3 separate regions of the Homo sapiens genome follow, and regions 1 and 3 are each linked to region 2. Evidence: fine-mapped expression QTL. A gene starts in region 2. Each other region holds a variant in brackets. All regions are shown on one strand. Distances are from middle to middle.

Region 1 (11,262 bases), 23 kb after region 2:
AAAAATAATCCTAACAATTCCAAGAGCAGGGAAACAATGCCAAAGACAGATGCAGGTGAAGAATGGAGACATGGAATAAAGAAGGTGTGATGTTAATTTGACTGAGTCAAAAAGTAGATAAGGATATGGTGGAATATAAAAGAGATTTGATACAGTAGAGGCTAAGAACTAGGAGGAATTTAGACTTTCAGAGTTTATTGAGAGGATTTTGAGAAAGCAATGATTATACTGGTCAAGAATGGTGGATTCTTTTGCCATAATTTGAATTGTCATGTATCAGTCAAGGTCTCAGCATGAAACAAATGGCATATTCAAATTAGGATATTCAAGGAGGATGTAATGAAGGAACTATTTAGAAAGGTAGGAGTAGAACATAGGGCATAGTGGATATACCATAATAGATAGCAAAATATCTTGGGGCCACAAACACTGGGGAGGTGTATGGCCTTCCCTAGGCCAGCATGGATGAGGGAAAGGAGCAGTTCCCAGAAGCCATATTGAGCATCATGTAGATAGAACTGCTTCAAGAAGAGCAGTGATCCACCCCAACTGTCTCCAGGCACCCCCTTCAGCTGAACCCACAGAAGTCAACTTCCTAAAGTAAACAGCAGTGTGGAGGGGAGGGTGGAGAATAGATATGGAATGGCAAAAGGAAGATATCTGGCACATGTCTGAAGCTGAAGAATCTGGAAACTGCCAGCAGGTATTTTAACTCTACCATTTCCTGACTAGCTATGTCTGTTCATGATTCATGCAACACTTTTATTTGTTTTGTCCTTCCTTCTTCCTCTACTTTTACTTTAGGATCCAGGGGTACATGTGCAGATTTCCTACATGGGTAAATTGTGTGTTGCTGAGGCTTGGTGTACAAATGATCCTGTCATCTAGCTAGTGAGCATAGTACACAATAGGTAGTCTTCCAAAGCACACATGCCCCCACCTTTCCCTCTCAAGTAGGCCCCAGTGTCTATTGTTCCCATCTTTGTGTTCATGTATATTCAATGCTTAGCTACAAATTATAAGTGAGAATATGCAGTATTTGGTTTTCTGTTCCTGCGTTAGTTTGCTTAGGATAAGGGCTTCCACCTGCATCCATGTTGCTGCAAAGGACATGACTTCATTTTTTATGGCTGCATAGTATTCCATAGTATATATTTACCAAATTTTTGTTATCCAATCCAACATTGATGGGCATCTCCATTGATTCCATTTCTTTGCTATAGTGACTAGTGCTTTATGCAACACTTTGAAAGACAGCACCCATTGTGTCAAGACATTGTGTTGAGACAGTGAAGACACAAAGATAGTAAGATAGAGACTAGCCCTTAGGTATGTAAAATAGCTATAAACAGAGTGAAAATAGGAAATAATTAAAATATAGAGTGAAACATAAAGAAATACAGAAAGCATAAGGGAGTTCAGTGCAGAGAATTTTCATAGCTAACTTATGACTTTAGCCTTGATGGGCAATGCAATAAAATTGTTGGCTAAGGTAGCCTTTCTAGCATAAATGCAAATATCAAGAATTTTAAAAGAAGTATTTAAATCTAATTTCAGCTATCAATGAATGAATTTAATTTCATTACTATAACAAAAAATAATCCATAATCAAAATTTTAGCTACTCAAAAAAGTTGCTTTCTGAAGTAAAGTATATGATAAACACAAATTCATAAATGCTAATTTTTTTGTGAAACACCAGCATTTTGTGTTTAGTCTCTGACACTTTTAAACAGTCCTAAAAATATTTGTTCTCGTAAAGGAAATCCTTAGTATTGTTTTAAATAAACTTTAACCTATTTCCTTTTTGGCATATTTCTCTCCAGGCTTTGTCTATATGCATATGTTCTTGACCTGGACTCTCTGAATCCAAAGAACTTTATACCATTCTTTAATTAAAAGAGGTAGAATATTGTGGTCATGGGGTTTTTCAAATAATTCGGGAAATCTCAGCCATATTTTGGCTAGACCTGGCACTATCCCAAAATAACATGGAAAATCATTGATAAGTCCTGCATGAGTCATCTGTTTAAACTGAAGAATTGGGATAACGGTGTCATTGCCCATGCTGATCGAGACGTTTTGCACAAGAGAGAGTTGACAAGGGACAATGAACTCTTTCGGAAATTAAAAAATAATTTGTACTAAAATCTTGATGAAAATAGAAAGCCTCAACTGCAAACTGGCTTGAATATATAACTAAAATATTATATTTATGACTTAGATAATATTGTTTAGTTTTGTCTTTCTATTCTTGATTTAAAATAATATATATATAATATATATATATTTACACACACAAACATACATATATATTCCTTCCCTCACCTTGCCTTTCCCCCCATCCCCAAATAGAATAATGTGATTCCCTGCCTATGATATTAGAATGCTGTGTGCACCAACCCCCATGCTTGTGGTTGAAATTCTACAGATACAAAAGCTCTCTTGCAGTCTACCCACACATTCAGGAGTCACAAGGCAGGTGTCTGAAGTTGGTCCTTTTTTCCCTTTACTTATGGAATTTGTAAAGTGTTATATTTTCATCTTTATAATGGAAAAAGTAAAATGTGATTTATTTTACAAAATTTCACCGCACAGGTACATTTGAAAGAATAAGGCCACTCTAAAGTGAGGCATATCTCAACACTCATATTATTTCAAAAGAATCACAACAAAAATAAAAATAATAAAAGCTATTCTGGCACACAATATCCTTCAGGCTCAGGTCCTGCCTGGCCCTGCCCCATTCCTTGGGGCCTCTACCCACCCTTCCTCACACCCAACATCTAAAACTCTGACCGCACTGAATCACTTCTGGTTCCAGCCTTCTAAACTGTTCTATACTGCTCTCCACATCCACACTCCTCCTCTATTGTCCATCTGACATGCATCTATTCCATTATCCAGGAAGCTTTTTATTTAATAGACTTTCTTTTTTCGAGCATTTTTTAGATTCACAGCAAAATTGAGTGGAAGGTAGAGAGACTTCCCATGTACCTCCTATTTCTACACATTGATTGCCTTCCCACCAGAGTGGCACATTTATTGCAATGATTCCTCTACACTGACACATCATCACCCAAAGTCCAAATAGTTTATTTTAGGGTTCACTCTTGGTATTGTACATTCAGTGGGTTTGGGCAAATGCATAATGATATGTGTCTACCACTGTAGTATCTTATAGAGTAGTTTTACTGCCCTAAAAAATTATCTGTGCTTCATCCCTCACTCCCCCAATCTCTAGCAACCACTGATCTTTTTACTATCTCCATAGTCTTGCCTTTTCCAGAATGTGATGTAGTTGGAATTATACAGTTTGAACCTTTTCAGATTGGGTTCTTTCACTTAGTAATATGCATTTAATTTTCCTCTGTGGCTTTTCATGGCTCATTTCTCTTTAGCATTGCGTGATATTTCATTGTCTTGATGTAACACAGTTTTTCATCTATTTACCTTCCAAAGGACATCTTCGTTGCCCTGGAATATTTTTTAGCCCTTAAACCACTCTCCAGAGAGGTAACTGCTCTTTTCTTGGTCCCCACTACCACACCCCACCATCTTGCATCATGGCATCAATGCACATTACTAAACTTATGTCCTGTCTCCTAAGCTGTAAGCTCCTTGTCTAATCATTGTGCTCCCAATATCTAGGCCAGTAGGCACTTAAAATAATTGCTACATGGATAAATACAAAAATTCCTTTTCATGCAAGAGAAGTGGTAGCTTTGAAGAGCAAGAAAAATATGAAATGAAGGCAATCAGCTTTTTTTTTTGCTTATATCTTAAGTATTGGGTATTGTCTTAAATACTTCATTACAGTATTTAGTGCTCAACTAATTCAATGAGGTAGACATTGAAATTCCATTTTTTCCAATGCAGAAATAGGGGCTTAAAAAAAGTAAGTAACTTGCCCAAGAAGCCACACATTTTAGCAAACTGGCAGCCAGAACAGAAGCCCAGGTTTCTCTGACTGGAGAGCCTAGGAGCTTGGCTATACACCAAGCATAATCATACTCTTACACAGCGTCTTGTGTAGAGAAGGAAATCATTTAAATTTAGCCACCCAGTTGAGAAAGCGAAAACTGGGTTTCAACTCAAAGGTCACTTTTCCTTTTGACCCAAACTGACTCTTTTGAAAGAGCCCAGGTAAAAATATTTCATCATATATCTTTGCCCTTGCACATATCTGTAAGCATTCCTGCTTTTCTCTTTGCTATTCTGATTTCTCCAAACTGCAAGGGCAGAGGTCTTTCATCTCAGTGTCGGAAGTTCCAGCTGGGACAAAGGACTACAGTTGCAGGAAGTGCTCCCTGAAAATCTTGTGTTTAATCTTTGTTTTTTCCCAAGAGCAACAAATCTCTTATTTTTTTTCATTTAACAAATATTTTTATTGAAGACTTTTGATATGCCAAGTATTGATAGAGGTATTGATGTATACAATGATAAACCAGGTGCCCACCATGATATTGCAGCTAAGAGGGATTTTTTTGAAGATCAAGAGAGTTAAGGTCACTGAAAGTCCTTGATAGGCTCTGGAACTAGGAGGGTTATTACTTGTTCTGGTTATGAATTGGCTTAAAACAAATGGTTTTTATGATATCTTCTAGTTGTATAGATTGACTGGGCTCTGCTGAGGGTTCTCATCTCATGAGGTTGCGGTCAGATGCTTATTGGGTCCATCTTGGGGGCTGGCACTTGATGCTGGCAGTGGGCTAGGTCAGGTTACATAGTCACCCCATGTAACATGGGCTTTTCATAGAATAGTGACTGGATTCTGACAGTGCAGGATCATCACAGTTCAGGATCTGGTCCTTGGCTTAAAATACCCTGAAACCTATTTTGTCAAGCAGGGGTCTCAGAGGGAGACCCTGGAGATGGTGGGCACAGGACAGGAGCAGCAGAACCTTCACCAGGAGGATCCCCCCTGGTCCTGTGACCCATGCGTCCAGCTCGGGGCCCTCAGGTGGGGGCTGCAAAGAAGCTGGTTGTCCCTTGAAAGCTGGAGCAAGTGAGCAGGTACACTTGGACCTGAGGCTGTGGTTTTTCCCCAGGCTGAAGTGGATCTTGAGGTGGCAAGGAATGGAACAGCCTGGCGCCCTGGGAGAGTGGAGGGTGACTTTGAACTGGGCATCAGCAGATGTATGCCCAGCAGCCACTTGCTTTTCCATTACATGTGAATCAGCAGGGCCAAGTTCACCCTTGGAAAGAAGTTGTAAAAATCGGTTGATGCCTTTGAAGGCCTTTGTTTTGGAGGCTTCTTTGAAGGGTCTTGCATCCAGTTCTGACCTTGGAGCAAGTGTTAAGTGGCCTCGAGGAATGTCACTGAGGCTCCTTTTGGAACAGATTCAGGAAGAAAACGCTGTCTTGAAAAGTGCTCTCTTCTCTTTGTGCAGGGGAGATTCAATAAATATCTCTGTTGTATAACATTCCTTGTATTATGTAACTCTTAAAACTTTTACAAATGACTTTCATATACATCATCTGATTGTTCAGACTTAAAGGGTGTCAGAC[A/G]TCTGCTGTTGATGGCTGTGCTTTTTGAACAAGGGTAGTGAAGTAAAAACTCCCTCCCTTCCTGCCCACCCCCTGTTATGTCTCTTCCTCCATGTCTTACCCCTCCCCCTCCTCCCATCGCTAGGCTTGTTCTTTACTTCTTCTTTCTGGGAGGTGAGGTGAGAAGGGGGCTCCTACATAGCATCCTGTGTACCTGTCACCCAACTTTCTTCCATGATGACATGTAGTGACTGTAGTTCAAAATCAAATCCAGAACACTGAAATTGGTACAATACTGTTACTGTACTACTACAACTTTCATATATATATATTTTCTTTTCTAAAATTAAGAGCACACAATTTGCATAAGTCTTTTCTCTTTTATTCTGTATAGTGGGTAAGGCTCAGTCCTCAGGTGTTACTGTAATGATGGGCTTCCCTATTTTTCATGTACAATTACATGGCTTTAGATAGGAATCTTCTTTATATATTTTATATTAACAAAAGCCTTTTTAGATATTAATTTGTGATAAAATGAAACTGACCCAGAAAAAGTACACACTTTTTCACACACACAAAAAAAATTGGCAAAAGAACAGACACTTATTGAGCCTCTGCTATATGCCAAGGACTTTGCCAAACACCGGAACACAGTGACGCAAAGACAGTCCTCTCTCAAAGGGTTCACACATCAGAGCATGAGCCTTAAGCTGAGATATAAGAAAAACGCATTTCTAAAAAAGACCTCTTATTGAGACCTGGGGACAAATGGCTGCATTATGTGTCAGGAAAGAGACTGAAGCACATTTTGTCCCAACATCAGGAGTTGATTCTGGTGAACCAAACAGAAGAACCACCATTGTTAAAGTTGGGTATAACTGGATAATCTGGGGTGGAACTAAGAAAATAAAGAAGCCTGGGCTAGAAAAGGATTGAACTCAAACAAGTCGCACATGCTGGGATCCATCTGTGTTTTGCCTATATCTTGAGGGCCACACCTCAAACATCTATTACTTTGATATCATCTTCAAGCCATACAAACAAATCCTCCTCCTTCTAAAGAGTTCCTCATCTCCCTCACTGTCACAGTATTTCCCAGCTGGCCTCTATTCTCCCTCCCTCTCTTACTAGGCTGTGAGTGTTTCTCATAGCTACCTGTTCTCTGCTTTTACCAGCCCAACTCAGAGCCACATTACCCTCGTCGCTTGCATGTTTTCTCTTAAATAAAAGCATCTTATTTAGCTTCATTGATTTGAGGCATGTATTAGTTTCCTGAGACTACTGTGACAAATTACCACAAGCATGGTGGGTTAAAACAACAGAAGATTCTCCTCTCCTAGTTCTGGAAGCCAGAAATCCAAAATCCAGCAGGACTACAATTCCTTCATGGACTCCAGGGGATAATCCATTTTTTTGTCTCTTCCAGCTTTTGGTGGCTGCTGGCATTTCTTGACATGTGGCTGCATCACTCCGATTTCTGCTCCCATGATCACATCACCTCCTCTTCTTCTGTGTCAAACCTTCTTGTGCCTCACTTTTATAAGGACACTGGACCTTGGATTTAGGGCCCACCAGAATAATCCAGGATGATCTCCTCAAGATCTTTATATCTGTAAAGACCTTTTCTACAAGTAAAGTCACATTCATAGTTTTTGAGGATTAGGATCGGAGATGCCTTTTTGGAGGCCACCATTCAACTCACTGCAGGGCTTTTCCTGTCCAATCCCTCTGAGTGGGTATCAGTATTTTCACCACATTATGCTCCTATTCAGAGTCATCAATGGTTTTTCATTTTCTCTCTCTTCAAATCTGAATTACTCTGCCTGGCATTCTAGGCTTACCACAATTTGGCCCCACCTAAATTTGGTACCCCACCAACATCCCATAATTTACTTCACCAGACATTTAGTAGTGTCTACTATGCCTAAGACACTGTTTCTAGGCTTTTGGGGACACCAAGATAAATACAGTGTCACCCAGCCTTCACAGAGCGTGTGGCCCTGCTGAGGAGACAAATTTACACAGCTGACTATGAAACACAACACAACAAACAACACAGTCCCTTCCCACCAGGCAGCCTCTGCACTATGCACACTCCCGCTACTCTGCTGCATTCATCCATTCTCACACTGCTATGAAGACCAACACTTGGTCATTTATAAAGAAAAGAGGTTTAATTGACTCACAATTCCACAGGCTGTACAGCAGGCGTGGGTGGGGAGGCCTCAGGAAGCTTATAATCATGGCAGAAGGGTGAAGGGGAAGCAAGAACATCTTCCCATGGTGGCAGGAGAGAGAGAGAGGGAAGCAGGAAGTGCTACACACTTTTAAACAATCAGATCTTGCGAGAACTCACTCACTATCATGAGAACTTGCTGTTCTGCTGCCACAATCCAATCGCCTCCCACCATGTCCATTCCCCAACGCTGGGGATTACAATTCAACATGAGATTTGGGTGGAGGCACAAGAGCCAAACCATATCACATGCTTTTAACTATTATCCATGATGTGTGACACAGTTTGGTACTTAATCACATAGTCCTACAGCTTCACTACTGTAATCACCTTTTGTGTCACTCAAGAAAATGTTTCTTAAACATAAGAACTTCTGCTTCTCTTACTTTTTACCAGAGTTATTATAGGAGTGTTACAAATAATGGTGTACATGTCTTTGTGTGAGACTTTGCTTGTACTAAAATCATTTGTTGCATCTGAGATCACTGGTTGAATGTGGTAATTGACCCTGTGAGGTAAATTTGGAGAAAATAAATGGTGTGAAAAAGAGCACCCCCTCTCTGACAGCCTTTAATGCTAAAGGGGCAGCAATATACTCAAGCAGAAAAAGCTGGAGGCCCTGGGAGGGGCTCCACCTCCATGCAACTCCAGCCAGGGCAAAACAGTGAATAGGGAAACATGGTTCAGAGAGAGCCAGCGAGTGTCACCAACTACAGCAACTAGACTGTGCAAACGACAGTAAAAAATACTTTTATTTTTCTTTTTATAGACATCTAAGAATTTTTATCCCAGCTACTCAGGGGGCTGAGGCAGGAGAATCGCTTGAACCCAGAGGTGGAGGTTGCAGTGAGCTGAGATCACCACTGCACTCTAGTCTAGCCTGGTCAACAGAGCAAGACTCCGCTTCAGAAAAAAAAAAAAAAAGAAAGTGTCCTTACAGCAGACATACAAAGAGTTGAGGGAAAAATCTTTAAGAAGTCAAACCAAGTGACATGGTTTTATGCTTCTATTCACATAAATTTATCGAAATTTCCTAAACTAAGCACACTTTTTAAAGCCTTAAAATTTTAAAACAAAAGCTGAAAACTTAGGAGATAAAATTGTTTCTAATTCTGGTTTATTTTGGATTGTCTCTCAGAAGTTTAAATATATATATAGTATATATAATTATATATATTATATATATTATATATATAATATATATTATATATATAATTATATATAATTTTATATTATATAATTATATATATTATATATATAATTATATATATAAAATTATATATAATTATATATATATAAAATTATATATAATTATATATATATAAAATTATATATAATTATATATAGACTGTATCTATAGTTACAGATACATAAATATAGATAGATAACTATAGATACATAAATATAGATTTATATTATATATATAATATTTAAAAAGCCACCATATTGTTCAAGCCATTTGGCAACCATTTTTTCTTTATACAAATTATATTTTGTAATATTCTTCAACATAATTTTCTAATGATTATATGGTATTCCATTTTGTGAATGCACCAAAACTTAATGTATAATTTCTTACTGTTAAATATTTAGATCTTTCCAATTTTCAATATTATAAGTAATGCTACTAAAAGTATCCTTTTACATATCTCTTAAATCCTTATAATTACAATTGCTGTCTTGAAGGATATACATTTACATTTTTTACTTACATTATCAAATAACAAAGAAGTTTATATCAATGACCAATTCAACTAATAAGGAATGTCACATTAGATTTTTTTATTCATCATTAAATTACAAGGCAAAAAAATGATATTTTGTTTTAATTTGCATTTATTTGATTGTTGAAACTGTATACATTTTTCTCATGCATTTCTTCTTTGAGAATTACCTGATTATATCCTTTCCTATTTTTTTTTCCTGGAGGTGATGGCTTCTTTTTTTTATTTTTAGAAGTTGCTTATTTAAGATAGCAATTGTTTATAGTAAATATAGTTTATAATGTTAATAATGCTTTTTGGCTAATTTAAAAAAATTTGTCGTCCAGAGTCCCAACCTTTGGAATATATTTTTTTCTTTTTTTATCATGTTTGTATCAAGATGTAGTTAAACTCATGGCACATTTTAAACATCTGTAAGTCAGAAGGATCACTTTTGGAAGAGGCCAATTACTGGCAAAAGTGATTCATTATCAAGACAAAAAGTAAATGTACTTTGGAAGTGTAAAAATCTTAAAAAATCCTTAAAGAACCCTTTATAAAAGCAATGCAAAGTATTTACTATACATCTGAATAATATGCACTTCATAATTGTGCCTCACCCCACCTCCTAAAATCTTATATCGATCTGTGTTTTGGGTTTGAGAGCCACCTTAATGTGGAAATGCAAGAATCAGCAGGATCAAGTCCAAGAAGAATGAAGCCAGATGGTTCTGTAAGACCCAATGTGAATAGACATATACAACAGGAATTATTTAAACTGCTTAACCATTCCCACAAAAATGAGTAGGTATATTTAAAGAAAACTTTTTTAAAGCAGAAGTTATCTACAATATTCCAATTGAGAGAAGATATATTCACAGGCAGTTTGGACAAGATGACTCCAGTCACATGAAAGTTTAGTTTTATTATAGACACTTTATGCAAACATTTCAATACTTTTTGCTACTTCTATAATCTTTTAGCAAGGCAGTCAGTTACAGTCCAAATGGGAAAATATAAACAAAATTACACATTTTATCTTTTAAAATCTACTTTAATTCTGTTATAAAATTTATAATGCAGTTTAAACTATGATTTCTCTCCACTTGATGATGTCTCTCACTCTGTTCCTTTAATTACGAAGTCTCTGAAGACTCTGAACTTGACTGAGGAAATGTTAAACAGATACCTCTTCATAATTCTGTAAGTGTTTGCTTTTAACTTTGAATAAATGTCATATCTAAACAAATATTAAAAAGTATTTAACATCTCATACAGTCAGAGTTCACTGGCGCTTTGTTCCAGCCTGGACACTGACCATTGAAAAATAGATGCCTTTCTGTGCCAGCAGCTGCTGATGCGTGCCATGCTCCTTGACTCTGCCATTCTGAAACACCACTATTAAGTCTGCATTCTGGATGGTGGACAGGCGGTGAGCAATCACAATGCAGGTGCGGCCTTCTCTGGCTTTGTCCAGGGCTTCTTGGACAACCTATTCCATAATCACATAGATTAATTCTCATAATAGTTCTTTTCCCTAATTCCTCTTCCATAAAAAGCTCCACAGTAGGACGGGCATGGTGGCTCACGCCTGTAATCCCAGCACTTTGGGAGGCCAAGGCGGGCAGATCACAAGGTCAGATTGAGACCATCCTGGCTAACACGGTGAAACCCCATCTCTATCAAAAATACAAAAAATTAGCTGGGCTTGGTGGTGGGTGCCTGTAGTCCCAGCTAGTCGGGAGGCTGAGGCAGGAGAATGGTGTGAACCCGGGAGGCAGAGCTTGCAGGGAGCCAAGATTGCGCCACTGCACTCCAGCCTGGGCGACAGAGC
Region 2 (11,262 bases):
GATATGAACAGACACTCCTCAAAAGAAGACATTTATGCAGCCAATAGACACATGAAAAAATGCTCATGATCACTGGCCATCAGAGAAATGCAAATCAAAACCACAATGAGATACCATCTCACACCAGTTAGAATGGCAATCATTAAAAAGTCAGGAAACAACAGGTGCTGGAGAGGATGTGGAGAAATAGGAACACTTTTACACTATTGGTGGGACTGTAAACTAGTTCAACCATTGTGGAAGACAGTGTGGTGATTCCTCAAGGATCTAGAACTAGAAATATCATTTGACCCAGCCATCCCATTACTAGGTATATACCCAAAGGAATATAAATCATGCTGCTATACAGACACATGCACAAGTATGTTTATTGCAGCACTATTCACAATAGCAAAGACTTGGAACCAACCCAAATGTCCAACAATGATAGACTGGATTAAGAAAATGTGGCACATATACACCATGGAATACTATGCAGCCATAAAAAATGATGAGTTCATGTCCTTTGTAGGGACATGGATGAAGCTGGAAACCATCCTCAGCAAACTATCGCAAGGACAAAAAACCAAACACCTCATGTTCTCACTCACAGGTGGGAACTGAACAATGAGAACACTTGGACACAGGAAGGGGAACATCACACACCGGGGCCTATTGTGGGGTGGGGGGATGGGGGAGGGATAGCATTAGGAGATATACCTAATGTAAATGACAAGTTAATGGGTGCAGCACACCAACATGGCACATGTATACATATGTAACAAACCTGCACGTTATGCACATGTACCCTAGAACTTAAAGTATAATTTAAACAAATTTAAAAAAATAAAGAAAAAAAAACTTCTAAAAAAATAAATAAAACCAGCTTTCATTTGATAAACAATTTATTCTCCAAAGTGCTAATTTTTTTTTAAATTGCCCTTACTGAGGCTTTTTAAACAAATAAAAAAAGAGGAGAGAAGACAATGAATAGGGGCTTTTGGTTACATGAGAAGTATGCAGCAGTGTTTGAGAGTGTGGATGTTTTGGTGTCTTTTTATCCATTTAATTACTAAGTTGGATTTCAGCTGACATGACACTTAATTCTAACTTCTTTGCTACCAAATAATGGCTGTCACAGTTTGAAACACGTCATATTTACCAAAAATGGGCAAATGCTTTCTTGAGCTGCCTCTGTAAGACATATTTCAAATGAAAACCAGATGAGGAGACTTCTTCCAAAAATATTGTCTTGTCTTGTACCAACAGAAAAGCACCGAAAACTGTTTTAAGCATAATCAGAATTCCTAATAGTTACCCCCTATTTAGCCAATTTTTTGGAAACCAAATGTGAATGTAGATTCCTTAAATTAAAATTTATGTACTTAACAATTACTTTCTTGAAATGCAAGCTTATTTTAAGCTAAATTTGGGGTGGGGGTCTGTGAAGCAAATGCAGAAATGCATTTTCTTGAAATTGTTGAGTTTGCATTGTGCTACTAACACAATTCCCATTTTCACTTTCCTTGCACACCAGTTAGCTCTGTCCGGTGTCATCGCCAGCCTGTCTCTACTTTTTAAAAAATCATCCATCTTAAGAATGTGGGTCATTGACTATAATAAGCCAAACTTATACAGCACAGGTGCAGCAAGGACAATTTATTGCTGTCTGCAGACAGTTTTTTGTTGTCGTTGTTTTTGAGACAGGGTCTTGCTCTGCCACCCAGGCTGGAGTGCAGTGGTGTGATCATAACTCACTGCAGCCTCAGACTCCTAAGACCCTCCTGCCTCAGCCTCCCAAGTAGCTGGGACTACAGGTTCATGCCATGACATATGCTATTTTTTAAGATTTTTATTTTTATTATTTTGTAGAGATGAGATCTCACTATGTTGTCCAGGCTGGTCTCAAACTCTTGTGCTCAAGCAACCCTCCCACCTCAGTCTCCCAAAGTGCTGGGATTACAAGTATGAGTCAGCTCGCCTAGCTAGACAATCTTAAAGTATTTGCTTTAAAGGTAATTGATTCAATACCTCAAATTTGAATAAAAGGTAGGATTATTCACATTTAACATTTCACAGCTTACCAATGTTAATACTCCAATCATTTTCACTGTCTTCGTTTTTTTCCTTTTTTGTTTGCTGTAAAAAATAGAATTGCTTCAATTTAAAACTGTTACAAAATGTTTTACAATCAATTGAACATAAATATGTTTAGTTACAATATTCAACTATTATATTTTCAAATATAAGAGTGATGTTCACAAAATGTCAAAATTATTCAGTTCAACAAACATAGCAAGCACAAAAGTAACTGTCGAAGGTACTACAAAGATACATGGATACATAAGAAATGGTCGCCTGCCTTACAGAGCTCACATACACAGGAAAGATAAGTATGCTAACAGTGTCGCTAAGTCAATTAAGTTATTTGTTTTCTAAAATTAAAAAAAATCATGATTTAAAATTAGGAATGTCTATTCTTCTGAAGGATTGTGGAGAGTGGTGTCAGGCAATCTTGTTGGTGATACATTCAAAGTACATCTAGAATTTAACCACTTATCACCAGTTTCATTGCTGTCACCAGTAGGGCAGCCTCCTGCCTAGTCTCTCCACTTCCACCTATGCCGCTTCAGTCTATCTTCAACTAGCAGTCAGAGTAATTATTTCAAAATGCCAAGCCATACACTACTTCTTTGCTCAAAAACCTACAATGGCTTTCCTTTTTCTTACAATAAAAGCCAAAATCCTTGCATTAACCTCTGAGGTCCTACACGATCTGTTTGCTTATTTCCTCTCTGACCACATCCCTACTCCCAAACCTGCTTACTCTGCTCCAACCAGCCTGGACTCTCTGCTGTTCCATGAACTCACCAAACATGTACCTGACTCAGGGTCTTTGCATTGCCAGTTACCTTTTCCGGGAATGCTCTCCCCTTAGATACCCACACAGCTGTCTCCTCTCATTTCTTTCAAGTCTTTGCTCAAATATTACCTTTAAAATAAGATCTACCCTAACCACCCTACTTAAAATTACAAAGTACTCCCCTTTTGTACTCCTGATCCCCTTAACCTGGATTAATGCTTTTTTCCATGGCGTTAATTACCTTCTAACATTGGCTGTGGTTTACTTATTTAGTATGTACATTATTTATGTCTGTCCTCCGTACTATAATATAAACTCTATGAGGGAGTGTGTGTGTGTGTGTGTGTATGATGATTTATATATATATGATGATTTTTACATAAATATGATGCATTTATCCAGGTAAATGATAAAGTTTTACTCATAAGATGATTCCAAATTATGTAAAGTATTGACTAAAATCACTGGACAAACATCTGCCACTAAATATGTTCAAAAGAATGTGCCATGGGCAATAGCAACATAATTAGAACAAGAATATAACTAATTTGATTGAAGCAGGCTTAACTTCCTTTAAATATATTATCTTTGGTCTGCTTTTATAAAAATTAGTTTCACTACATTTGATTTCATAATCATGTGGTCTTAACTTATTGTTAACTTTCTGTATTTCTCTTTTGAGCTGCTTTCTTCTTTCCAGCAGAAGCTGTGGGCTTCCCCTCTGAGGACTTTCCTGGGTTCTGAAGTGTTACTACACCTTTTGTAGGAATAGCTCCTTTGCACACGCATCAAATGTTAAGCCAGTGCAATACATAAATAGACTTCTTCATGAAAATGCCATCTATTAATAGACTCACAGTCAATCCCTGCCTAAACAGCCAGCTGATGAAAACCATATTTTTCTATTGCGTGTGTAAGTACTTCCATTGGAAGTAACACCATCTATCACTTTTTCAATTCTACATGGCAAAACTAAATTTTCTATGAAAAAATACAATGGTGCTTAGAAGAAATACAGCAAGGTTACTGCACAACCACATTAACAGGCTAAAATAATGCTTCAGTTTAAGCATCAGGTAGGCATGTTTTCAGTTAGCTAATCAAGCCCCTAGCAGCTTGAGGACAAACTACAGAGACTGATAAATTTGTCCCTCTGGGTGATCACTTGACACAGGTCAATTTTTTCTGGGTAGCCTGGTATGAACTCAGAGACCGTAATAGCCTCATAAACTATTTCAGGCTAAAGGCGAAAATGATTCACTATTCCCACAGTGAAAGAGGAAACAAAGACACACGCCATTGACTGGGAACTTCTGCCCCGCTCATAAAGCCTGTGAAGTGAGTTTAACAAGGGCCAGGGGAACCGAGAAAGACATGAAGGCAAAGGAAGCGCTGCTTCCCCCTACCACTTGAACAAAACTGATTCGGATGTACAGAAGTTCCCCCTCCCCACCTATCCTCCCAGAAAGGAGAAATACAAATAAGCCTGGCGATGAGAGGAGGGGGAGGGGTAAGACAAGGAGGAAGAGACATAACAGGGGATGGGCAGGAGGGGAGGGAGTTTTTGCTTCACTGCCCTTGTTCAAAAAGCACAGCCATCAACAGCAGATGTCTGACACCCTTTAAGTCTGAACAATCAGATGATGTATATGAAAGTCATTTGTAAAAGTTTCAAGAGTTACGTAATACAATGAATGTTATACAATGCAGATATTCATTGAATCCCCCCTGCACAAAGGGAAGGGAGCACTTTTCAAGACAGCCTTTTCTTCCTGAATCTGTTCCAAAAGGAGCCTCAGTGACATTCTTTGAGGCCACACAACACGTTTGCTCCAAGGTCAGAACCGGATGCAAGACCCTTCAAAGAAGCCTCCAAAACAAAGGTCTTCAAAGGCATCAACCGATTTTTACAACTTCTTTCCAAGGGTGAACTTAGTCCTGCTGATTGGCGTGTAACGGAAAAGCCAGTGGCTGCTGGGGATGTACCTGCTGATGCCCAGTTCAAAGTCGCCCTCCGCGCTCGTGGGGCGCCAGGCTGTTCCGTTCTTTGCCGCCTCAAGATCCATCTCAGCCTGAGGAGAAACCACAGCCTCAGAACCAAGTACACCCTCTCCGGCGGCCCGGCGCACGAGTCGCGGGGCCCGGGGGCACTGGGTGGAGGTCCGGCCACTCCCGCCCCGCGCCCCACGTCCCGGGTCTCCCTTCGAGGCCAGACGCGCCCGGACCTCTCTCACCTCGAACCTCGCGCGTGTCTGGCAGGGCCTCTGGACGCGCGGGCGCTGCAGCAGAGGGGCCTGGACTTTGCTCGCCGCGGCCTCGCCCCCGCCCCCGCCCCCGCCCCCCACGCGCGTCCGGCCCGGGAAACGCCTACCGTTGCAGCCAGGGCGAGGGCCGCGGCCCGCGAGAGCAGCTCCCGCCGCCCGCCCAGCTCTCTCCCCAGGCTAGGCGCGGGCCAGGGGCGCAGCCTGCCGCTCTTGCCGCCGGGGCGCCCGGCTGGGGCCGCCGCCCACCCTGGCGACCCGCCAGAACCAGCCCGGTCGCAGGATAAGACCGAGATCAGGCTGGAGCCTCGGGTGCCGAGAAAGCCTCGCCTGATGGGCCACCCAAGCCCCTGCAGATGACTGTCACACCCCATGGGCGCTCAGTTTTGTTTTTAAACCCATAGGGGAGACAGTTTCCGGACGCCCAACAATCACAGGGCGGCCCAGGACCGAGAGAGAGCAATAGACTCGCCTCTTGCTTCCGCATCCCCAGTTCTGGTCCAGGTGGCACTGAACCCAATTATCTCCAAGGACGGCGAGAGTCAGCCAGGGCCGGCAGGAACCATCACATTATGCTCCTTGGGGAGGAGGAACGCTGTTGGTGCCCTCTTAGCACTTAAGAGACACAGAGTTTTAGGGCTAGAGGGGTCTTCAGCGATCATCTAATTAAAACCCCGTATGTTTAACATATGAAGAAACGGATGCCCAGAGAGGTGAAGTCCTGCCTGAGGCTGCATCGGTGGAACCAGAGTCTAGGGGAAGCCTCCTGAGTCCCAGTCCAGTGCCCTGGCTCACTGCTCTCATCTAAGACTTCTGTCTGTATTGAATTGTCTCTGCTCCTACCACCTATTTGAGTATGACTTTCTTCTTTCTGATTAATTCCTCCACACTCTTCCCAAAAGGAAGTGTCTAAAACGGGGAGCCATAAGTTTCATGGCTTTGAAACCGGAGACTTTCAAACTCAGAGCTTCACATCTTATTAACTATGTGACTTTGGACACTGTGCTCATTTCTCTAGGCCTGTTTCCTTATATGTAAAATGAGGATAAAAACATCTCCCTTATCAGGTTATTGCGAGGAATAAATGAGTTGAGGATAAGGGAATTAAGTACTAGGTAAAAGCACCTAGTACTATGCCTAAAACATAGTAGGTGAGCAACAAATACAACTTTCCTTCCTTCTGATCAGGTAGCAGGATGACCAGTGGGTCCTTGCACCTGCTATGTCCTGTTAACACAATTGTTAGCCCAAGGCTTGTCTGAGTTCTCAGAGAACCTTAAAGCAGAGCATGGTATAAGTAGAGATGCTGGGTGGACCCTGGTGTGAATCTCACCTTTCCCATGTACCAGCTGTCTGGCCAGGTTATGTAATTCTTGACTCAGTCATTGGATCTATAAAATAAGGGTGTTATTAGGATTAGGGATACTGTGTGTAAAGTGTCCTGCACGTAGGAGACACCTAATAAATGGTGACTATTATTATAGTAAAAGTTCAGGCGAGGCCAAGGAAGAAAGACTGGAACAGGAGCCAGCAGCTTCGGCACTCACCCCTTACTTGTGCTGTGCCTCTGCATCCTGCTCTGCCTGCCACCTGGAGCTAAGGTGGAACTTGACTTGAAACTGCATGCTGGAGTAGAAATGAATTTAGTTGAGTATTTTTCCTCAAAATGTTTTCTCTCCATATCAGTCTACCATGACCATGAGGATTCTCTTCTTAAATCAACCCAAATTCCTTCCCTTCACTGGTCTAACAGGCGGTCAGATCATTATTTCAAGATACTCTGAGACGGAAGCAGTTGGAATTGTGTAGTTTGAAAGAAGGCTTGTGGTGACTGGAGGACATTATTAAACTCATTAGCACATAAGGAGATGACAGTTTCTTCAGTCTCTAATAAAAGAGAATTTGATAAAGTAAATGCAGATACTTGAAGGAGTAGGAAGGTTCAGAACAAAAACTAAAGCAAATAACATGTATGAGGCAATGAGGTGTATTTGCCTGTCTGTCTGTCTGAGCCGATTCACAAAGTTGTCCCTGCAAGAAGCCATGCCTATATGGCTGTGTTTACTTCTTTACCTGTATTACATCCAATTCCAGGAGCTCCTTTTATATTTATTTGATAACAGTGCAGTATCACTGAGAATTCCATCATTTATTCATCAACTAGAAGTTGAAGACTTACAATATTTAAAGCACTATGATAAACTAGATTTCTCCATTACACTCAGGCTGTAAGAAATCTTTACTTTCCCTTTACAGTAGAATATTGAGATACTTATGCATTGATGTAAGGCTGGAATTAATGCCCTACCACGCTATCTTACTTTTTCTATTTGCCCCATTGGTTCCATCTTTCTTTTTTATCCTCACTTTTGCCTTATTTTAGATCTGTTTAATATTATCATTTAGATTTCCTTTCTATAAGATGTATTCTTTTATTTTCTATTTAATAATGATCTCCTTTCTAGGGATTATGACATGTATCTTTGACTAATCATTGTACTTTTTCCTCTTCCAGGACAATGCAATGATTTTAGAACTCTTAAGTCTCTTTTTTATTCACCCCTAACTTTTACATTGCCATTGTCATGTACTTTAATTTTCTCTGTATATTCATGACTCTTCTGGGAATATTATTTCTTTATGAGTTGATACTTATTTAGCTTTATCAAAACATTTATCATTTTCTTGCTTTTTGTTTCTTCCTACATCTCAAAGCTACCCTCTTGGATCATTTTCCTTTCACCTAATGAGCACTCTTTCATCTACTGTCTCTTTCTTGTTTTCTTTAGTTTGTGACAAATTTTCTCAGCTTTTTTTTCCTGAAAATTTATTTCACTTTTATCTTGAAAAATTATCAGTTATTTATGGGTTTGCCTTACTAAATAAATATCAAAACTCATTATCAAACTATGGTAATTAGAGACATGTGTTTTGGAATGAGACAGACAAAGTAAAACAGAATCAATATCTTATAACTGATGGAACTAGAATTCGAATCCAGGGAGTATCCTTATCCGCTATGACTAGCAGGGAAGTGGAGATGGAGAACATACGTCAGATGTATCAGAGAGTTAAACACAGTCATTCTTTAATGCATCCTTCAGTCCACTGATCTTACCACCTTTTTACTGTTCCTCACCTCCTTCATGTCTTCTCTCTTAACTCAGCCTGAAAACACCCACAACCCTCTAGCCCTCTCTCTTTATCAGGCTTGCTTAGTAAAACCACAATCCTGGATAATTCAAGTTACTGAGCTACTGTGAACCTACACCATGCAGCAGAACATGTCTGAAGAAAAATACAAAGTCATCGGGCTTGCCTCGCCATGAACTTACATGGCCCTATACTGTATACATAATGTACTTATTATGTTTATTATTTATTGCCCACTCTGTGGGATGCAAGACTTATGAGGGCAAAGATTTTGTAAAATTCACTATGTATCCCAACGTTTACTGACCAATAGTCATAAGATGTTTTCTTAGTTCATTCACTCACCTGCTTTTCTAATAATTATTTCATATCGTCTGTTTTCTCAAATTCTGTTCTTTTACATCTTCACATTCTGCTAAATTACCGTGCTTATTTCACTGATGAAGTTGAAGTGTTTAGAATGGAACTCCATAACCTCCTACCATGATATTTTTCCACTTACCAGCATCTGTACCAACACTCTGCCTTTGCTGTTTCTGTAAATGAACTATTCATGCCTCTCTTTGCAGCCAGTCTTTGTTTGCATGTTCATCCTGTAGATCCCATCCCCTTTCACTTTCACAAGGAGCCATTCTTCCCTTTCTGTCCTATATCATCAATTTCCCCATGCCTGCTGGATCCCTCCTGTGAGCTTACATACATACTGTTATTTCTTCCATCTTGAAAAACAAACAAAAAACCTCTCTTGACCACACTTCCCCTGCCAGCTACCATCATATTTCCCTCTTTTCCTTTGGAGCTAAACTGGTTGGCAAAGTTTATTACTTTCTTCAATTCCTGTTGTTCTCTCTGAAACCCACTCTAAACAGAAGTTTGATCTTTCCACACTACCGAAACTATTTTTATAAAAGTCACTGATAATCTCTGCTTTGCTAAGTCCAAAGATCAATTCTCTGTTCTTATTTTACCTGACAAATTCAATAATTTGACAGATTTATCACTCTGTCTTTCTGAATATATCTTTTTCATATAGATTCCAGGACACCATATGTTTCTCGGATTTTCCTATGCTTTCCTGATCACTCTTCCTCAGTCTCCTTTGATGCCTTCTCTCTCTCTCTTTTTTTCAACTACTTACCTAACACTGGAGTGGTCCAAGGCTCATTCCTTGGACTTCTCAGTCTATTCTCGCCACTTCTGTCATGTCAGTCAGTCACACAGCTTTAAATACCATCTGTATCGAATAATTTCTAACTTTTTGTTTCTAGCCTAAAATTCCCTCTTGCATTCCTGACTCTTAAACACAAGTGCATCTTTGACATTCCTATCTGGATGTTTAACAGACATCTCAAGCTTAACATGCCTAACCTGCTCCTGATCCTTTCCCCAGGCTGGGCCCTCCAGTGAACTTCTGCATCCAGTTGGCAGCTCCAGACTTATAGTTGTCAACAAAAACACTGGAATCATCCTGCATTCCTCTCTTTCTTTGACACACCATAATCAATCTGTCAGGAAATCTTGTTGCCTTTACTTTCAAAATATATTCAGAATCTGACCTTTGCCCTGCACCTCCAGCTCTACCACCATCATGCAAGCCACTATCATCTCCACCTGATTTTCTATAATAGCTTGTTAATTGTCTCTCTGCCTCTGTCCTTTCCTCCTCTTCCGCCTTTGTCCATTGTCAAAAGCATGGCCTGGATGATTCTTTTGAAATGTGAGTCACATCACATCACTCTTCTCTTCACATTTCTGTGGTAGCCCCCAATTCACTCAGTCATGGCCTACAATGCTGTGCCCTCTCCGTGACCTCTCTGATCTCATTTTTATTTATTTTGTCTTTGCCTAACTCCACTCCAGCCACACTGGCCTCTTGGATATTACTCAGACAAGAGAGGCAGCACTCCACCTCAGGGTGTTTGTACTAGTTGTTCCCCCTGTCCAAAATTATCCTCCCCAAAATACTGACATGGAGGACACTCTCACCTCCTAAAAATCTCTTCTCAATTAGAAGTTGGATCTTGTACCCTCAGGACTCTCAGTTCCTCTTATCCTACTTTGATTTTCTTTTCCACAGCATTTATCACCTTCTAGTATACTATATCATTAAAGAATTTATTATGCTTATTGTCTCTTGTCATCTTAGTAGCACATAAGAGCCGTGAGAGTAAAAATATTAATATGTTTTCATTTCATTCGCTGGAATATCCAATAATTGCTGCCCACACTTACTATGTGCAAGGACCTGGGCTAAGGTTTTAGGATAAAAAGTTTTAGGCATATAAAGAAGGATTTAAACAAGGCTAATGCAAAAGTTACTCAGATTATATAGTATTTTATGAATTTACAGAGCCTATCACACATATATATCATCTCATTTGATTCTCAAAACAAGGAGCATGTTCAAGGTAAACAAGTGAGGAACTATTATTCTCAGTTTAGAGGTGGGGATATCAAAGTGAATTTTACACAGCTAGTAAACAATGGAATTAGGCTTCCAGCTCTGGCCACGTGACTTCAGCTTCTCATTCTGTATTCCTATTGAAGACCACTGTTAGACAGAAGCCTTACCTGTTGTATTTCTAGTGCCCACAGCACCAGTGGGCTCAGTAAATGTGTATTGAATAGATCAATATTTTTGAACTATAGCATAAAAGGGTTTGTACAAAAAGAATTTCCTATAAGTAAGAGTCAACAGAGAATAACAAATTCCATCTACCAAAGTATTTTCAAATTATATTCAAATATAAATTAATTAGCAACAATTTTTCCTAAAGAGGGTGCTATGATGGACTCTATTCTCTGTCCTGTTGACTTATATCTTGACAAATATGCTCTGTGGTCTTTTCCCCCACTATATTGCATTTGTGGCTATCTAACAATTCTCCAAATTTTCATGTCTGAAGATAGTGAAAATTTGACTATTCTGTTTGCACTTGGCTGCACTTAACTACTCTTGAATCATTTCCAAACTTTTGGTCACTAATGTTTTTTACTTCTGCTCAA
Region 3 (11,262 bases), 96 kb before region 2:
TCTGTAATGCAGATATTTTTAATACAAATCTTTGTGCTTTGAAATATAAAAAATTAGATGTGTAGCTGAAAAACAGGTGCATAGTTAGCCAAGTTAAAGGAAAAGAGGGATTATCTTGTTACCAAATCTGTATCTCTTAATGGTGGCGATTTGGGCAGTTATGTGACCTTTTATTATCAAACTTAAAATGTCATTTCAGGTTTAACACACTTTCCTTTGTAATTTCTCCCTAATAATGACCACCTTGTAAAACGAACATGAAAATGATCATTTCAGGGAGGAAGTAAAAGTTTCATAGTCAAAACTCGTGCTTTGAGGTAGTTGGTAAGGGAAAGGTAGCAACAAGTACCATATGGAGAGAAACAGGTTGATTTTATTTAGAAATTCAGAGTTTATGCTAGTAACCACAACTGCAAAAGCTTTACTTATAATTGGAGCAAAATCAGTAGTTACTAAAGAAAGTAAGCAGGAAGAGAGGCAAAGCAAGTTGCTCTGCTATAGATGCAGATTGGTGAAGAAACCCTTATTCTGTTCCTCAGGACACCATTAATTTGCAAATAACAAGGGGGGAATTTTTCAGCAAGAAATGTATTTCTTTATCAGTGTTACAGATATAATGAACAAACAGAGGAGAGTATGCAAATCAGTAGATAAATGATGAATTCCAATTTTGAATGATGAAGTCAGAACTGATGGCTACTAGTAGCATTTTTTGACCATTTATTAAGCTACATTAGCTCACTTCCTGAGAAATCCTTGAAAGCTTTTAAATTGAAGTAATTTCTTAACATGTGCCATGAAATTGAGCTAAATTAAAGCTCTGTGGATTTTTGACTGATGTAAATTTCTTTATGGGAGAACCCAGTTATTTATCTGCTGTATGTTTAAAGATACATGAAATTCACCAATCTAGGAGCATAAAATACTGTGGAGGGGGAGTAGTTTATCCTTAGCTAATAGAGTCTTTAAAAATATAATGATTAGAAGTAACAAAGTGGCACATATGAAAATAGTTAAAACTGATTATATGGTATTTCTATTTTTTTTTGGTAAAACACAAATATTAATTGAGTATACAGTAAGTCCTCTGGTTAAATATATACGCACATAGATTTTAGTTAGATAAGATGTACATTATATTTGTGAAATTGATTACCAGGATATTTTTCAAGTTCTCCATTGTAAGGATATTTACAGTAAAAAGGATATTTACTTGCAACCTAGAAGTGCATGCACATTTCCAAAGTATATATCAGCGAAACTAAATTTAGCCAATAACTAAATTTATTTACTGAAATTAAATTATTGTCAAATATGCTTTTGGTGTTAATAGAACACAATCACTTAAAAAAATATGTGATGTAGGAAATCTATTGGCATCATAAGTGGTTTCTTTGGGTAATATATCCAAACATTTAAATATTGATCAATGTTATGACCTTTTAAAGGCCAAAGTAGTTACTTTCTGCCTGTACTCTTTTTTAATCTTCTTTTCATCTTCCATAAGACAACTGACATATATCCACAAGAAGTGCCATAGTGAACCTGATGGACCTGGGATTGCAGCATTAACTAGTGAGGAGCGAACTCGATGGGCTAAGGTTCTGATTTACACTTTTCTTAACGAAGCTTTTCTCTAACAAACTCTTTTGATGTATTGTATTTCAGTTGTAATATTTGATCATCATCTCCTTGCCCTTTAGGCACGAGAATATCTGATTGGTCTTGATCCAGAGAACTTGGCTTTGTTAGAAAAAATTCAGAGTAGTTTACTGGTATATTCCATGGAGGATAGCAGTCCACATGTAACACCAGAGGATTATTCTGAGGTACTTAACTACCTTCTCTTTTTTTTTTTATTGCAGATTTTTCTGGAAGACTCATATTTATTGAACATGGAAGTTTTTTTTCTTTTTCTACCTTTAGGCTCTTGAAACTTTTTCTTAGTTATACAATATACTTGTGCCAAATTGAAGCTTATAAAGTAGATAGTAAATTGGTAAATCCTTGCCACATTGTTTAAGTTTGTTTAGCTATATATTATACTTTGTTTAAAGAAGTATGACTTTGCATATCACATATCAGTGTTGCTCAACCTTTTCATTGCTTGCCTACTCAGAAAATTTACACAGAGCACTAGGTTAATGAGCTTTTCTTGCCAAAGGTGAAATGATAACCTAATCATAACCTGCACTAGTGTATCTTGACACCATAGTTGGGACTGTGTCTCCTAAGAATTATGTCACCCTTGTAAGTCATTTATTTTATCATTTGGTTAATTGCTGAACACATTGATGTCAGTGACGTTAAGGGTAAATATGGCCTTATTTTATGCTCCCCTGCCACCCCCAGGGTGACATTTGTGTCCCAGGAAATAATAAAAGATAGTAATTGTATTAGAAATCTCATAGTCTTTTGAAAATACTTAATTATTTTATAGTGAATTAATCGGTATTAAATAATAGGAAAAAATATCAAGGATTGGAAAACCTTGTAGCAAGGAGAGAGATTTTTTTTTTTTTTTGAGAATCACCAGACTTCTTTTTAAGGAAGAATGTATTTTAATGCAGTGTTGTTCAAAGTTTTTTGACCACAATTTTTAGTTACAAATACATTTAGATTGCAGCCCACTATATATACATGTGTATATGCATGCAAACACATATATAAAATAGGAGTTTCACAGAGCACTAATTACTTTTATTGTCTGTGAGGTACACTGATATTTCCAGTCTATTTTATTCTCCTTTTTTGTAAGGAATATTGATTATGATGCACTGAGTTAATTTCATGATCCATTAATAGGCCAAAGTATACAGTTTGAAAAACAGGTTTAGTAGGAAACGAATTCTTAAAATATTTCCTCCTAACTAGACTTTAATGACTAAACTTTTATCAAGATCTTTTATCCTATTCAAGTTACAAAACCCTTATCCTCTCAATTCTATGTTCTGTAAACATTCATGAATATTGTACCAGCATTTTCTTTTCTGGTAGGATTTTCTTAACTTGAGATTTTGAGAAGCCCCTAAAGTCAGGGCCAGAATTACTCTCTCTTGACTTTGCATATCACATATCAGTGTTGCTGATCATAACTATATTATGATTTTATTAAATTTGGTTGACGTGAAGAGGAATGGTGAGATGATATATGTGTTTAAGATGTAAATTCTTACAAACCAATATTAAACCCTTTTAATTTGGAAAAATTAAATTTATTTTAGATTATTGCAGCCATCCTTATTGGAGATCCAACAGTACGCTGGGGTGACAAATCCTATAACTTGATTTCCTTTTCTAATGGAGTATTTGGCTGTAATTGTGATGTAAGTAAACTACTGAAATTTTTCTCTTTTGATCTTTTAGGTTAAATTAATGACAATAAACCATAAATACTTGTGCTGGGGAACAGTGTAAGTGAATAGTAATTTAGTTTTATGGCACTGTGGTGAAAAGTTTAGTTATGAATTCTCATTGAAAGTATAGGACAAGTTATTTTCTTCTGTAGTAAGGCCAACAGTTTGTTGTGTACTATATCTGCAAAATGGGATTTGCATATAATATTTATGTAATATAAGCTCTTAAAACCCAGTATTATCTGCTTGCTGAGAATACCTATTTCAAAAGGTATTATATGGCATTATGTATGTGTTCTATGCAGAGCAATGCATATGGATATATTTATAGAGTTCAAGATTCACCTAGTAACTAGGTAACTATTTTCCTAAAATGACACATAATCTTTGGAACACTATTTAGGCTGTGGATATTAAAATGGCAGTTACTACCATTTTGACCATTTTCATAAAAAATGAACAACTTTTCTTGCTTCTCCTCTGTTCCCCTCCCATGGACATCTTCACTAGCTGTCTACTAACTGTCTGATAGGCATTCAGGAGGTCTATGAACCAAGAAAATTTTTTATAAAGGGGTTTGGGGCTGGGTATGATGGCTGATACCTGTAATCCCAGCACTTTGGGAGGCCAAGGCAGGTGAATCACTTGAGCCCAGGAGATGGAGACTGGTCTGGGCAATGGCATGAAACCCCGTCTCTACAAAAAATACAAAAATTAGCCTCACATGGTGTTGTGCGCCTGTGATCCCAGCTACTTGGGAGGCTGAGGTCTAGGAGGATCGCTTGAACCTGGGAGGTTGAGGGTGCAGTGAACAGTGTTTGGGCCAGTGCACTTCAGCCTGGGAAACAGACTGAGACTCCGACTCCAAAAAAAAAAAAAAAAGGGTTCAGTAGTTGTATTAATCCATATTCAGGTTTAGGTGATAGAAACCTAAATCAAACTAGCGTTAGCGTAAGAAGATATTTGTTGGCAAGGAGTTAGCTAAATTTGGGTAAAGCTGACTTCAATGTTCAAATGCTTTCATTAGAAATCTCTCCCCATTTTTTGGTACTGCTTTCTTTTGTTTGGCCTCATATTTAGGTAGACTGCCCAATGTGATTGTTGTACCAACAGTCTCATATCTTCATAGCTTTCTTCATAGACTCCCAAAGGAAATAGTCAGCTTCTTTGTTTCCAATGGTTACAGCAAAAGTCCTGGAATAATCCTCATCAGTTGTGATTGGCCTGTGTGATTCATGTCCCCATCCTGGGGAATCAGGTGCTTGGATGAGCTTGGCCTGGGTCACATGCCCAACCTTGGAATCTAGTGGGTAGAATCAGTCTCATTCAAACCACTACAAAGTGGTGCTTGGTTGCCTAAAGAACAGTAAAGTAGCTGTTATTTCAGAACAAGGTGGATTGGTTAATAGGCACTGAAAGTAAATGTCTATTGGAGTATCTCATCAGAGCTACAGTGAAAAGTTGCCACAAGTCATTTATTTTGAAGATGTTCTCTTTACTCTTCCTTTGAGTCTACTGTTGACAGAATAGTTCTTGTTAATTGCCTCAGTTTTCTTCTCTTCAGCTCCTCATTTGATTCTCCTTGACCTTCCTCAGTCTGGTTTATGTCCTTACCATTCCTTGCAAACTACCCTTTGTAAGGTGGTTAACTGCCCCCTGGCTTCTTCCCTTCATTTCCCTTTGACCTGTCTGCTGCAGTTGGTTACCCTCTGCATACATATTTTGACACTGCCTCTTTCCTCTTAACAGTATTTTCCTCTCTACTGATTCTGAAACTGACCTTAATATTCATCACACTTTTCCCCCTCTGACCACTTTATTGACCTATTGTTATATATGTAACTTGCAGCTATACTTTTCTAGCTTTTACCTATTATTCTCATTTGAGAGTTGTGTTTCATTATATGTTAAATTGTTCAAATTGGATGTTATATTGTTATATAAGAGTAAGTCAATCTCATCAAGAATAACTCATCTTGCTTTCCGTCCCTCATCCCCAAGACCATCAAAAAACACCTTTTGCTAAACTGATTTTTACTAATAGCACCAGTATCCTGCTGTTCACACAAATTCAAGATGAAAATAATTTTGATAATCTTGTCTGTCTCTGAATAAAGAATATTGGGCTCATAATGAGCATATCTCTCAGCATAACTGAACTGCTTTTTTATAGTGTGCGGACATGTTTTATGTGTGTGCATTAACATGCATATATTCATAAAATTGATCTGATTATCTCCACCTGATAATTTGCATTAAATTCCATGGAGGTTTCCCTTCTAACCTAAGATGATTATAGAGGGTGCAGTTTAACCTTTGTAAATCATCATTAGTGAAATACATATGCTGTAGGCCAAACATGGGAGCTCATGCCTATAATCCCAGCACTTTGGGAGACGAAGGTGGGAGGATTTGATTCCAGCAGTTCAGCACCAGCTTGGGCAACATAGTGAGACCCTCATCTCTACAAAAAATAAAAAATTAGTTGGGCATGGTAATGCATACCTATACTCCCAACTACTTGGGAGGCTGAGGTGGGAGGATCACTTGAGCCTAGGAGGTCCAGGTTGCAGTGAGCCATGGTTGTACCACTGCACTCCCACCCAGGCAACAGAACAAGACCCTGTCCCAAAAATAATAATAAGAAGAAAAATAAGCAT[A/T]TGTACTGTAAAATAAAGCTTATTTTACCCTAAAGCCATGTTGCTGGTCCATAATTTTAATTGTTTGAATATGTTCTTTTGTGATTATATTAATTCCATTTCCCTCCTATTTTATAAACCTGAAGTCAACTATATTGTCTTCTCTATATTGTAGGCTTTATTGTAAGGCTTTGCAGAGGGTGCATAGGAAGCATGTAAAAACTTTAGTTAATAATAACAATAGTTACTAATTATTGCTGTGAGCTAGATCCTTGGTAAGTACTGTGTAAGTGGTATAAAAATCATTTTTCACAGCATCTGTATGTATGTATGCATTATCTCTACAGGGAAATGAGGCAGTTTAATTAGAAAGCAAAGTAACTTTTTTACTATTGCCCAGCTAGGAAGTAGTTTGAACTCAGAACCAAAGCCTACATTCTTAAACACTATGTAAATACATATTGCCTCTGTGTAAGTGCAAGAAATGAAAGGTAAAAATTATGTGAACAAATAAAGCATCAGGATAGCATTGGAATTTTATATATTTTCTACCTTCTTTGAGATTATTAGCTTTCCATTAGGAGATGGGTGCTTAGAATTATAGCTCAAAGAGACATCCTTCACTCTTGCTATTTCCTACTGGCTCCAGTAAAATAGTTGGAAACTGATGCTGTTTGTCTTAAATGAAACAATATATTTGATAATATCTGAAAATTCTTTGTAAAATTGTAAAGTACCACACAGTTGTGAGATACTGTTAGAAAATGGGTTTGTCAGCGACCTGTGAGTCTTGTCATGTGTGCTGTTGTTGGCAGATAAACTGCTCAGGCATCTTATACTGACCTCCCTCAAGAGCCTTTCCTGATGTAGTTGTTGCCTGGTTGGTAACAATAAATCCTGTTTATAGGCTCCGCTGGGCCATGATACAGGCTACAGAGCTATAGTGTTAGGGTGACATTTAAGACACCTAATTACTCCTCTGAAACTGGGCCCATATCTTGATACTACTTCCCTTCTTTCCCTCCCAAGCTCGCAGTGTCACGTTCAGATCATGAATGATATCTGTGTCTAATGTAAAGTGGTGACAGTCACAAGGAACCGTCTGATGTAACTTTTATCTAAGGAACATGGGGAAAATGCGGGCAAAAACTTTGTTCTTCAAAATAGATGATGGGAAAATTCACTAACTGCAATTTCTTTCTCTAAATACACCTGGCAAACCTGAAACAGCCCCGTAACACCCAGCCTATCTTTCCCACATTTCTTAAACTGAGAATTATCACATTGGGACATTCATATGTATAAAAAACACAAAATGGTTATGCTTTCTAATATTCACTAAGTGGCCTAAGTCCTTACCTAAAGAAGTTCATGCCCATCCCAAATGCTTTCAGATAGGTTGCCATCCCCATCTGCTTTTCCACCCTGTTCTTACAATTCCAGAACATCTTCGTGTTGCATATATACACTTGCTTTGACTTCTAGTAAAAATAGCAATTAATTTATCTAGATTGTTTATATGTTATTTTATACACCCTCATGACCCCAAGCCCCACCAGAAGCCCTACTAGGTGCTTCCAAATTTAAACAACTTTTTTTCCAAAAAATAAAATATAGCAGTTACTGAACTGTAGGGAATCTTCTATCTTATCATATCCTCAAGAGGTGAGGCATTTGAAGACTCTATGCTTTATTATCTGTTAAGAATGGACACAAAGTGAAAATAAAATATTGGGTCAAGTTTTAAGTTGACATAAAGTATTCAGAAATCTTGTGTGTTCTCATTTTAGCATGCTCCTTTTGATGCAATGATTATGGTGAACATCAGTTATTATGTGGATGAGAAAATTTTTCAGAATGAAGGAAGATGGAAGGTATGTTTGAATAAATATTTCATCTTTTTTCTCCTAATAGTTCTATAGATAAAATATTTTTAAGTCTTCCCTATTTTCAGGGTTCAGAGAAGGTACGAGATATACCACTTCCAGAAGAGCTCATTTTCATTGTGGATGAGAAAGTTTTAAATGACATCAACCAAGCTAAAGCCCAGTATCTCAGGGAGGTATATTTTTCACTTTTCTCTTAAATAATAATGATTTTTTCTTTTAACAACCATATGTAAAAATTTGGCTGTCATCCAAGCATGTCTGCACAAAACATTTTAAAATTATGCCTTTAACACCTTTAATTCTTTATGTCTGGTGATTACTTTAATGCAGGTGATAATTTGCTTCTCTTTGGTGTATTCTCCTTAGGTGATTTTTCACCGTTCTCATTTAATTCTTCTTGTTAGGCATCTGATCTACAGATTGCGGCTTATGCCTTTACATCTTTTGGCAAAAAGCTAACCAAGAACAAGATGCTTCACCCGGATACGTTTATTCAGCTTGCACTTCAGCTGGCCTATTACAGACTTCATGGACAGTAAGGACCATTCAGTTTCTATTTTCACAGTCTTGAAGTCCAAGGGTATATCTTTTTTTATAGCTATTTCATCCTAACTCCTCAGTATTTTTGCTCACTTTTTTCCCAGCTGGTACTGTGTCCTATTTGTACTTCCATCAATAGAGTATTAGATTTCTGATCTGTGGTGGTTTCACAGTTTTTCCTTGTTACTTTATCACAGTATCCACTTGATAACTTTTGACGTGTCTATTCTCATCTGAAAGAGGATTGGTCATCTTTGGCATTCAGATCGCTTGGTTTTCTTGCAACGTCAGTTTTCTGATGGGTTCATGAAAAGTTGTGATTTTATAAATTATCCAGCCTTTACTCATTTTTAGAATAGGAGCGACATTAATTTTGTGACTTAATACATCCTAAGAAGAAGTAGAAGTCCCTCAATGTTGCTTTTTCATTGATAAATAAGTTATAATTGAACATATTTATCAGGTACATGTGATTTTTTTGATACATGCATAAAATGTGTAATGGTCAAATCACGGTAATTGGGATGTCCACTGCCTCAACCATTTATTACGTCTTCGTGTGGGGAATGTTCCAAGTCTTCTCTTCTTGGTATTTTGAAATATACAACAAATTATTGTTAACTATAGTCAACCTACTGTGCTATCGAACACTAGAAGTTATTCCATCTAACTGTACCATTATACCCATTAGCTAACTTCTCTTCAATCTCCTCTCCCCCCTACTCATCCCAATCTCTGTTAACCACCATTTTACTGTCTACTTCCACGAGATCAATTTTTTTTAACTCCCATATATAGGTGAGAACCTGCAGTATTTGTCTTTCTATTTCTGGATTATTTCACTTAACAAAAAGTTATCCAGCCTTACCCATGTTGCTGCAAATGAAGGGATTTCATTCTTTGTTTTTTTATTTTGGCTGAGTAATATTCCATTGTGTATGTATATCACTTTTTTTTTTTTTTTTGAGTCAGAGTCTTGCTCTGTCGCCCAGGTTGGAGTGCAGTGGCATGGTCTTGGTTCCCTGCAACCTCTACCTCCTGGGTTCAAGCAATTCTCCCTGCCTCAGCCTCCTGAGTAGCTGGGATTACAGGTGCCTGCCACCATGCCTGGCTAATTTTTATAGTTTTAGTAGAGATGGGGTTTCGTCGTGTTGGCCAGGCTGGTCTCTAACTCCTGAGCTCAGGTGATCTGCGTGCCTTGGCCTCCCAAAGTGCTGGGATTAGAGGTGTGAGCCACCACGCCCGGCCCACATTTTCTTTATCCATACATCTGCTGGACACTTAGGTTGATTCTATATCTTGACTATTGTGAATAGTGCTGCAATAAACATTGGAGTGTGGCTATCTCTTTGATATATTGATTTCCTTTCTCTTGGATATATACCTAGCAGTGGGATCATCAGATTGTAGGGTAGTTCTTTTTTTTTTAGTTTTGTGAGGCACTTTCAGACTGTTCGCCATAGTGGCTGTACTAATTTACATTTCCACCAACAATGTATGAGGGTTCCCTTTTCTCCACATCTTTGCTAGCATCTGTTATTGCCTATCTTTTTGATAAAAGTGATTTTTAACTAGGGTGAGGTGATGTCTCATTGTAGTTTTAATTTGCATTTCCCGATGATTAGTGATGTTGAGCATTTTTCATATACTTGTTGGCTGTTTGTATGTCTTCTTTTGAGAAATGTCTATTAAGATCATTTGTCACTGGGCGCATGGCTCACACCTGTAGTCCCAGCAATTTGGGAGGCCGAGGTGGGCAGATCACCTGAGGTCAGGAGTTTGAGACCAGCCTGGCCAACATAGCGAAACCCTGTCTCTACTAAAAATACAAAAATTAGCCTGATGTAGGGGCACATATCTGTACCTCTACCTACTCAGGAGGCTGAGGCACGAGAATCCCTTGAACCTGGGAGGCAGAGGTTGCAGTGAGCTGAGATCGTGCCACTGCACTCCAGCCTGGGCGACAGAGCAAGACACTGTCTAACAACAACAAAAAAGATTATTTGTCCATTTTAGATCAGATAAATTTGTGTGTTGCTATTGAGTTTTTTAAGTTCCTTATATATTCTGATTATTAATTTCTTGGGAGATGGATAGTTTGCAGATATTTTCTCCCATTCTGTGGGCTGCTGATTGTTTCCTCTGCAGTGCAGAAGCTTTTTAACTTCATATGATCCCATTCGTCCATTTCTGCTTTGGCTTCCATACTTGTAGGGTATTACTCAAGAAATATTTGCCCAGTTCAGTGTCTTACAGAGCATCCTCAATGTTTTCTTTTAGTAGTTTTATAGTTTCAGGTCTTATATTTAAGCCTTTAATCCATTTTGATTTGAATTTTGTACACGGTAAGAGATAGTGGTCCAGTTTCATTCTTCTGCATATGGATATCCAGTTTTCATGGAGCCATTTATTGAAGAGCCTGTCCTTTCCTTTGCTGAAAAGGAGATGCCTGTAAATACACGGATTTATTTCTGGGTTCTCTATTCTGTTCCATTGGTCTGTATGTCTGTTTTTATGCCAGTAACATGCTGTTTTGGTTACTATAGTTTGGCGGTATATTTTGAAGTTTGGTAATGTGATACCTCAAGCTTTTTTTTTTTTCCCCTGGTATTGCATTGGCTATTCTGGGTCTTTTGTGGTTCCATATGAATTTTTGGATTTTTTTTTCCTATTTTTGTGAAGAATATTGTTGGTATTTTGATAGGAATTGCATTGAATATGTAGATTGCTTTGGGTAGGATGGACATTTTAACAATATTAATTCTTCTAATTAATGAACATAGGTTGTCTTTCCATTTTTTGGTGTTCTCTCACTTTCATCAGTGTCTTATAGTCTTC

What was found. PIP is the estimated chance that this variant, and not a neighbour inherited with it, causes the effect.
Region 1: its variant is fine-mapped to the expression of ABCB4 in whole blood (TOPMed, PIP above 0.99).
Region 3: its variant is fine-mapped to the expression of ABCB4 in whole blood (TOPMed, PIP above 0.99).

The regions. Positions count from the first base shown.
Region 1 is chr7:87,493,530-87,504,791 of GRCh38, forward strand. It overlaps ABCB1 (ATP binding cassette subfamily B member 1), which reads right to left. Exons shown (of 28, transcript NM_001348946.2): 28 at 9,488-10,920. The coding sequence ends at 10,714. Among named protein-coding and RNA genes, the nearest start is that of ABCB4, 23 kb to the left of the region's middle. The variant A/G (reference allele first, on the strand shown) is at 5,511.
Region 2 is chr7:87,470,558-87,481,819 of GRCh38, forward strand. ABCB4 (ATP binding cassette subfamily B member 4) reads right to left here and starts at 5,123. Exons shown (of 28, transcript NM_000443.4): 1 at 5,077-5,123; 2 at 4,829-4,914; 3 at 2,064-2,118. The coding sequence starts at 4,908. RefSeq lists an enhancer at 4,310-4,379 and silencers at 4,850-4,989, 5,000-5,199, 5,250-5,499.
Region 3 is chr7:87,374,125-87,385,386 of GRCh38, forward strand. CROT (carnitine O-octanoyltransferase) reads left to right here. Exons shown (of 18, transcript NM_021151.4): 8 at 1,508-1,601; 9 at 1,704-1,829; 10 at 3,225-3,326; 11 at 7,786-7,869; 12 at 7,950-8,057; 13 at 8,289-8,419. It also overlaps a transcript of ABCB4 not described here. Among named protein-coding and RNA genes, the nearest start is that of CROT, 34 kb to the left of the region's middle. The variant A/T (reference allele first, on the strand shown) is at 6,017.